3 separate regions of the Homo sapiens genome follow, and all the other regions are linked to region 3. The links come from fine-mapping of genetic effects on gene expression. A gene starts in region 3. Each other region holds a variant in brackets. All regions are shown on one strand. Distances are from middle to middle. Region 1 has its middle 33 kb from the start of SLC38A11. Region 2 has its middle 360 kb from the start of GRB14. Region 3 holds the start of SLC38A11 (solute carrier family 38 member 11).

Evidence for each region.
Region 1: its variant is fine-mapped to the expression of SLC38A11 in lung (TOPMed, PIP above 0.99). The same link has a PIP of 0.9 or more in sun-exposed skin.
Region 2: its variant is fine-mapped to the expression of SLC38A11 in subcutaneous fat (GTEx, PIP 0.96).

Annotation. Positions count from the first base shown.
Region 1 is chr2:164,987,630-164,990,400 of GRCh38, forward strand. No RefSeq gene overlaps it. Among named protein-coding and RNA genes, the nearest start is that of SLC38A11, 33 kb to the left of the region's middle. The variant G/T (reference allele first, on the strand shown) is at 1,544.
Region 2 is chr2:164,255,771-164,258,541 of GRCh38, forward strand. No RefSeq gene overlaps it. Among named protein-coding and RNA genes, the nearest start is that of GRB14, 360 kb to the right of the region's middle. The variant G/A (reference allele first, on the strand shown) is at 1,459.
Region 3 is chr2:164,954,296-164,957,066 of GRCh38, forward strand. It overlaps SLC38A11 (solute carrier family 38 member 11), which reads right to left and starts at 1,230. Exons shown (of 12, transcript NM_001351537.2): 1 at 914-1,230; 2 at 336-450. The coding sequence starts at 952.

The DNA.
Region 1 (2,771 bases), 33 kb after region 3:
CAGGTGATGAGATCAATGAGGATAAATGATAACTTAATGGGGTGTCACGGAATCACCTTAAGTTGGCTGGTGAAGACTTGGGCAGTTTTTAGGAACAGATTATATTAAAAACAGGAAAAAAAGAGCAAAGAAAAATATATTAGGACTTCTAGCTGCATGGTAAACAATAAACTCTGGTTTCACTAAATATATTTGGCATATATTAATTATAGAATTTTCCTTGCAAATGTTGTTACAAATTATATGATATTTCCTCTTTTCCAATTTTCCTCTTACAAGGTAAATTCACCTAATCTTTATTATGATATATTTGTAAGGGGAATTGAATTATAAACTTTCTTAGGCTAAAATAAGGACAAAACAAAAATTTTCTGATAAAATTTTCTTGCAGTATGCCACCATTTGCCAAAGGAAATCAGCCATTGTAGCCTTTTCTGCAATCTTAAGTTTTTTGGACAAATATCTATTGTCCAAACTAAAATTTAGTTCTAATTCCATTCATATTAGATATATTTATTTAATACAGCATTCTGTTTAATACAGACTTTATAAATAGAATCACATTTTATTTTTAAATGTCATATCCTAGAGGAATGTTTGTACAAATCATTTAAAAATGAATAGTTTAAAAATAACTTAGCTTTAGTCTTTAAGTATTTACATGCTGATTTGTCATACATAAAAGGATATTCTTCTTCTTAATTATATCTTTCTGATACTGAATTTTAAAGGTTTTTTTTGTTTTAATTACACAACTGGTGGTGACAATATAACCCTAGATGGCTATGGTATATTTGTTCAGGTGCCTTGAGAAATACCAAAATTTTTGACAATTTTTTTTCCTTTGGGCCAGATCTTTTTTATTACAATGAAAGAGAAATTTCAGTACACTAAGAGACAGAGACTCTACACAGAGTTTCAATTTCCCCTTAGCTCCTATAAAATGGAATATCATGCTACTGAGATATCTCATGCACTGCTCTTGCCTTCTGTCTGAAGATGGGATTCATGAATTACCTGAATCATCTGGATCCCTAGAATTGGATTAGTGGCTCAGACCACTCCATCTTTTGGGGCAGATGATAGAGGGTGTCTATTTCCTACAGCTAGGTTGTTGCAGTAAGATTACATAACTCTTATTTGATCTTTCTCATTATTTTTTTCAGGACATAAATTGTGTTCCAATTCTGATATCCAATGATCTTACCTCATTTGGGGTAGGTTAAAGTTGATACTCATTAGGACTCTAAGTACCATATTTTTCTACTTAGTGCAAACGTCAGAAAGTAAGTAATCATGTTTAAACTGACAAGAGCTTTAACCAGGAAGTTGCCTACATCACAAGATCTCCTTCCTGTGGTAATGTGCATGGAGTCTTCCACAAAGAGACAGACAGATGCCTGCAATAACCGGCTTAAGAAAAGATAACCATCAATACCACTGGTTGATTTCATCTGCTCCTATGAGAAGGACAGATTGTACATGGTGCTGTCAGATGATCTCAGACCATAAAGAGATTTCCTGAGAGATCGTTATAATATTG[G/T]GATAAAAATTTATTACAAAAAAACTCATAGAGTGAATAAATGATAGAGGTAAACAAAAGTTTATTCTATTAAAACTTACATTTTGCAGCTTATTACAACATATGTTATGATTTGAATGTGTCCCCTCCGAAGTTCAGTTGTTGCCAATATGATGGTATTAGGAAGTGATTGAGATCGGTATTAAGGTATTAAGATGGTCTTTAAGAGGTGATTAGGCCTTACAGTCTCTTCCTGGCTAATGGAGTTAAAAGGCCCTTATAAAAGAGGCGTCACACAGTGCTTGTCTAGTTGCCTTTCCACCTTATGCCATGTGAGGATGCAGCAAGAAGGCCCTCACTAGATCAAATGCCTAGAGCCTTACCTTATATTTTCCAGCCACTGAAACTGTGAGAAAGTACATTTTTTTCTTTATAAAATAGTCTGTGGTATTTTGTTACAGGAGCACAAATGGACTAAGACAACATGCATGTAATTAACAAATGGGTCTTCAGTATAAGCATGAAGGAGATAGCTTTCCAGTTTGCTAAGAGATGTCTAAACTGGACATCCTTAACAGCTGCCCCTCCACCCATAACCATTGCACCAGTTTCTATATAAAAGGTCAGAACTCTGCCTTTTACTTCGAGAACTTCTTTTCTGGAAAGGTCTAACAGCTTACTATCCATCCCATTATAACTAGCTATAATATTCTGTCAAATTCCTTCAAATTGATTTCTCTGTCTTAGACCACCATACCCATCATAATTCTGAAAGCTGAAATAGGATGAGCACCCTCTTCTCTACAGATAGCCCTATATGGAACCCTTGGCTTCTGCTGAGATAAGATTTGAGATAGGAGAAAGAGAAAAGCTAGTTTGCCAACCAGAGGGAGGATGATGTGTTCAGTTTGCAAATGGTAAGATTTAGATGTTCTGTAGACAACTAGAGGTATTGGAATCCAGGCTTGGATGAGAGGTTTGGTTTGGTACATCAATTGAGTAGTCATTAGTATAAAAATGACAACTGGGCTGGGTGTGGTGGCTCATGCTCGTAATCCTAGCACTTTGGGAGGCCGAGGCGGGTGGATCACCTGAGGTCAGGAGTTCGAGACCAGCCTGGCCAACATGATGAAACCCTATCTCTACTAAAAACACAAAAAATTAGCTGGGTGTGGTGGTGGGCACCTGTAATCCCAGCTAATCGGGGGACTGAGGCAGGAGAATTGCTTGAACCTGGGGGGTGGAGGTT
Region 2 (2,771 bases), 700 kb before region 3:
AATTCACTAAACAGAGTCCACTTACTTCAGCGTCAGTTGAGTACTTAACTGCACTTTTCAGCAACCCTTATTTAATTTCTATACTGTTTCCTACAACATCAATTACAAACTTCTCTAGCAGGTTCTAAATGTCTTTCAATCTTCTCTTTCTCGGGAGAAACACTGCTACTGACTGTAATTACAGAATCTCACAAAATTGACATCCTCGGTGCTTTTATTCCAAACTAAAAATGTTTCTCCATATTTATTTATTCTTTTTCCCATTTTACCCTCTCTCTATTAGAGAACACGATCCTTTTCTCCTCTAGCTCGATATTTATGCTTCAATTTCTCATTTATGCATTTCTCCTCTACCCATAAATATATTCTAGTGAATCAAAATATAGTGTAACAAAGTGCCTTTTTTGGTTTTCCAGTCATCTTTGCTTTATATTGTTCCTTAATAGCAAACGTCTCAGAAGAAGAGTCTTTTCCCTGCCTTGATTTTTTACCCATTCACTCATCTCTTAATTCCTATTAGCCAGGGTTCCACCACTGAAAATACTCTCTCTGAGATCTACAATATCAGCGGTTACTGAAGAGGGTGAAATCTGTTAAGAGCTTTACAAATATGAGAGGACATTCTTATTAAATGTACTGAAATCTTCAATCCTCTCCCTGCCTCTGATTTATCTTATTTTATTAGCTGAACCTCAGATCAGAGCAATTCTTCCATTTAAAAAAAAATCTTTTTATCCCCTATCTTACCATATTTAGACTGACCTATACTGAGTAAAGGTATTGAACGAACTAGCAAGGGTGTAAGAAAATTAAAGTGATGAAGCCAATACATTCAACTGCAGTAGCATAAAAATTACATGTATACATGTATGTATTTAGTCTCCTTTTCATCTCATGCAGTGTGTGCTTATTATGAGACATATGGATCTACTGAGAGAAAATAATATATATACACACACATATATATGTATATATATATACTTAAACCCTGCCTTCCAAAAATAAGCTGTGCCAACTGCATATTTGTGTTGCTTTGCATTAGGATTAGTTAATTCTTTATAGTGTTTTAGATGTTTTATGGAATAAATTCTTTAAATGATTCCTCTCTGACACTGTGGCAGTTTTTGCTTTCAGCTATGCATATATTATATATGACATGCATATTTAATGTAAATATCTCACACATAGATGAAAAAGTATGATTGTACAATTTACCACTTACCTTCAGGGGTGGGGGTTAAGAGGCATTTTATTTTTAGAAGAAATTACTTGGATTAAAAATAAACACATCTCACTGCCAAACTAAATGTAATTGTAAAGAAGGAGGCTGCTGGAAAATGTCACATTCCTTTGGAAATTGATGAATAAAATAATAAAATAATAGCCTTGTTTATCTACAGTATTAAAAGATATATTTCAATATTCCCTTTGCCAAATAGGAAAAAAATGAGTAGCAGG[G/A]GAGAGATTTTATTTATCAGTCTTCAAAGATAGAAGGGAAAATTCTGTGTAAGAATACATAAATTGTAAATGACATTTAACAGATATCACATGTGAAAGTGCCTTCAATGCACTATTTCCAATTTGCTTAGACAACTTGAAAGTAAAACATCAAAATAAGTGCCTGTAACTTGCCCCAGAATGGCCAAGCTTTAAAGAGAAACAGTGTTTTCTGATTTAACTTATTACTATTGATTCACAAGGGAGAAGTTGCATTCAAAGATATATTTTCAAAATAACACATGGTACTCTAAAAACTTCAAAATACATCTAAACAGCGTTTAAACAAAGAAGGACAAATGGAAATATAACTATCATAATTCACATGCAAACATATCTATTCTAGCTTACACTGGCAGCCTGAAATATGAATAATTTGCTTCTTTTAATATACACTTGTTAAAAATCCAATTAAAGCCAATCATGAGAAGAAAAAAGAATCTACCAAATATTTGTTTTTATACTCTATTCCGGGTTCTTTTCTGTCTCCTTCCAAATTGTAACCTTCTCATTTAAAGAGCTCAGTCACCTAGCATTGCACATGAACCTAATTACCGGCTTCTAGGATTCAATCTTGCTTTTCATGCCCTGCCTCAATGCAGCTGGCACTGAACCATAGTTATATGCCAGGAAAACTACCAGCTGGTAGTACTCCGTGGTATAGCTCACTGAGGAATTTTTAATAGAGCCCATATTTTCAACAGTTGCACTACCATGACTAAGCAGGTGGCTCAAAGAGCTCCAAGTTCTTACTCACATCTGCACATCTTTTCACAAACCTGGGAAATACACCAGATTCAAGTTCAGCCTCCACGGTATGAAACCAAGTGAAATTTGAGACATTCTTTAAATAATTTACTGTATAAACCTGCAAACCTAGACAATTAACTAGCTCTGCAATATTATGGTCTTTTCATTTCTAAATGGACTATTTTCACTTACATCTGAGCTGAGTGGATGTATTTTTTTATCAGAATAATGTTTATATAACCTTTATAAGAGATATGAGCTCCCTTAAAAGGTTTCAGCAATATAAAAAGCCTGAATAAAGTTTTTAAACACTCTAAATCCATACTCATACTTAACCAAAAAGTTTAAATATAATAAAGATGGAAAAAATGTACTGGACAAATAACAACCAACAAATATTGGTAGTTATCTTAATATCTGATAAAATAAAACTTAGAGCAAAACAATATAAGAAAAGGAAAATGATGCTATATCTGGAAAAAAGAACAACAAAAATAAAACATAAGCATTACAAACATTCTAAC
Region 3 (2,771 bases):
GTGGAAAAAGTACATTCGGTAACACTAGCAATCAACCACGCAGCCTACAGAAAAATGATTCACCACCACCCATATGCAGTTTCACCTTAATCTACCACATGTGGAAGATGCTCTCAACTGTGGAAACAGTGTGAATTACAGCCCCATCTTCAGCATAAAAGACATGCATACATACTGTTACACTAGAAAAAAAGGAAGCCTTTTATGGAAGAAAATTACCAATTTTCTTATTTAAGTCTTTTTTTCTTTAAAAATAATTAATGAACACTAGCAGCGTAGCGAGTCTTAAATTTTGCCCTTTCACTTAAAATTTAAACCAAAGCAAATACACTTACCTATTATACCAGATCCTATAATCGAGTTGACAACATTAAAAAGAGCAGCAGACTGACAGGTTTTCTCTTTATACTCATGTTCAGAAACAAGGGTTTCTCTGTCATCTAAATCTCTCTAATAGATAAAATAGCAATTATAAGCAAATACTAGTTCAGAAAATTAGAAAAGTAACAAATATGTAATGCAGGATACTAACACGATTTTCTAGTAATAATAAGTAATGTCACTAATGAAAATAAAATAAATGCCGGGATAACAGTAATAAAGAATAACAATAACAGCTAGTAATTCAACAGAGCTTGGTAAGCAAACTCCATCCTAAAATTTCCAGATTACAGCTGCCCCAGCTGCTAAGTACAGGATCTGTTAGGAATTCAGTGATGTGATTTTGTGAAATTAAAGTGCCTGCTAAGAAAAAAAAAAAAAAAAGTCAGATTAAGGCAAAACTTTTTGTCCCAGAGAACTTTTCGCGGTGCTAAACCAAGAGCCCAGGTGAAGGTAGGTGACCTGACCTGTTGCAAGGTGAATGAAATTTCCGGACAACTGGCTTCAGAACCTGCCTAGTCGCTAGTTTTACCTGCGGCGGGATGACAGGCTCCTGCCTCTGGTAGCCCATGGCTGAGCGGTGGTCCTCAGCAGGTGGAAGATGCTGGGGCTGGGTACGGATTCGCACCCGGCCAGCCTCCTCCGCCACCTCGCACACAGCCGAGGTCCGCGTGTAGCCGCAGAGCTGCAGGGAGCCAGTTCCACGGGCGCCCCCTGCTCCCTCGGCAGGCCGCGAGGGCTGCAGCCCCAAGATCTCTAGGCTGTGGCAGCCTGGGGCGCTTTTCCACCGGAGTTCGCCCAGACAAATGTATTTTTCCTCCGGAGACGGAGATGCTGCAGGATGTTTCTGATCCGGGCAGCCCTGTCTCCCCGCCTCCCCCCTTCACACCCCCGCCTCCCTGAGAGAACAGGGAGAGCTACTCTTCCCTGGAGCTGCAGAGGACAACTTGTTCCACCCACGCTGCCCTGCCCCGATCTCACAGAGTTATGACCGCCTCGTTGCAGTCCGTTCCTAAGTTAGCTTCTCCTTTGCTGGGGTCTGAAGCCCAGGTAAGAACGCAGAAGCACCCTTGGGCCCATGGGCCATCTTCCCTATTAGCACCTCCTCCTCGCTACCCCTCTTCAATGGCAGAGACGACGAGTGAAAATTTGGGACTTTTATTGTAAATGGAAATGGAAAGACTCATAAGAAAATGAATAGCAAAACAAAAAACTTTCCTAGGGTTTTAGCAAACTTGACTACTGAGCATGCTTTGGTCAAACGCTTCCTGGTAACTTTTAGAAAAAGGAGCGATAGAGAAAATGAAGGTGGATTGTTACTGCATTCAGGTAATGAACCTTGAAAAGGGAAAGAGGAGTACAAGGGTTTGGGAAAGGGGTGGCACCTACAGTGCCTGAGCTAGAAAGAATCTTCAATGACCACCTATTCAGTCCTCTTACATTACAGATGAAGCAACAAGCCCAGAGAGTATTCAATATCAGAGACAGAATGCATGAGACAACAGTTTCAGGGGCAATAAGAGCGGTGATATGCCATCATACTTAACAAATTCTGCCTTCCCTTGATATCCATAGGGGATTGGTTCTGGAACCCCTGCAGATACTGAAATCCAGGAATGCTCAGGTCCTTGATAGTAAACAGCATGGTATTTACATGTAACCTAGGCACATCCTCCAGCATACTTTAAATCATCTCTAGATTATTTATAATACCTAATACAATGTAAATGCTATTTACTTGTTGTTATACTGTATTGTTTAGGAAATAAGAAAAAAGTCCATATGTGTTCAGTATAGACACATCCATCCTAGCCCTAACTACATTTTTGATCTGGGATTGGTTTAATGCATGGATGCAGAAGTGGGGATATAGAGGCCAACTGTACCTAATTAAAGAGGTTCTGTTTCATACATGTTTACTTATAATTAAGAAAAAAAATTAAAAACCGTGGGAAAACAAAAGACTTATAAACTTTATATACACTCTGCCATCAAATGTTAACATGCTGTCATATTTTCTTCAAATTGTAAAAGTAAACACAATGTCACAATAGGAACCCCCTTGACCTTCTCCATTCCTTTCCCCAGGCCTTCAGCCCTGGAGTCATCGGTTCATCAAGTTAGTGTTATCTTTGCTATTCATACTTTGTATTTTAATCCGTTCATTTATAGCCATAAACAATATATAACATTGGCTTTTGTATTTTCAACATTTACAAAGATGGTGCCATATTGTACATGTTATTTTTCCACTGGCATTTTTGTTTTCAGCATGTATGATGTAGATATATGCAGATTTTTTTTTCATTTTATCTAACAGTTAAGTCAGCCTTCCCCTACTGAAAGATATTAAGGTTGTTTCTCGTTTTACACTCTTCCAGAGCATAAAA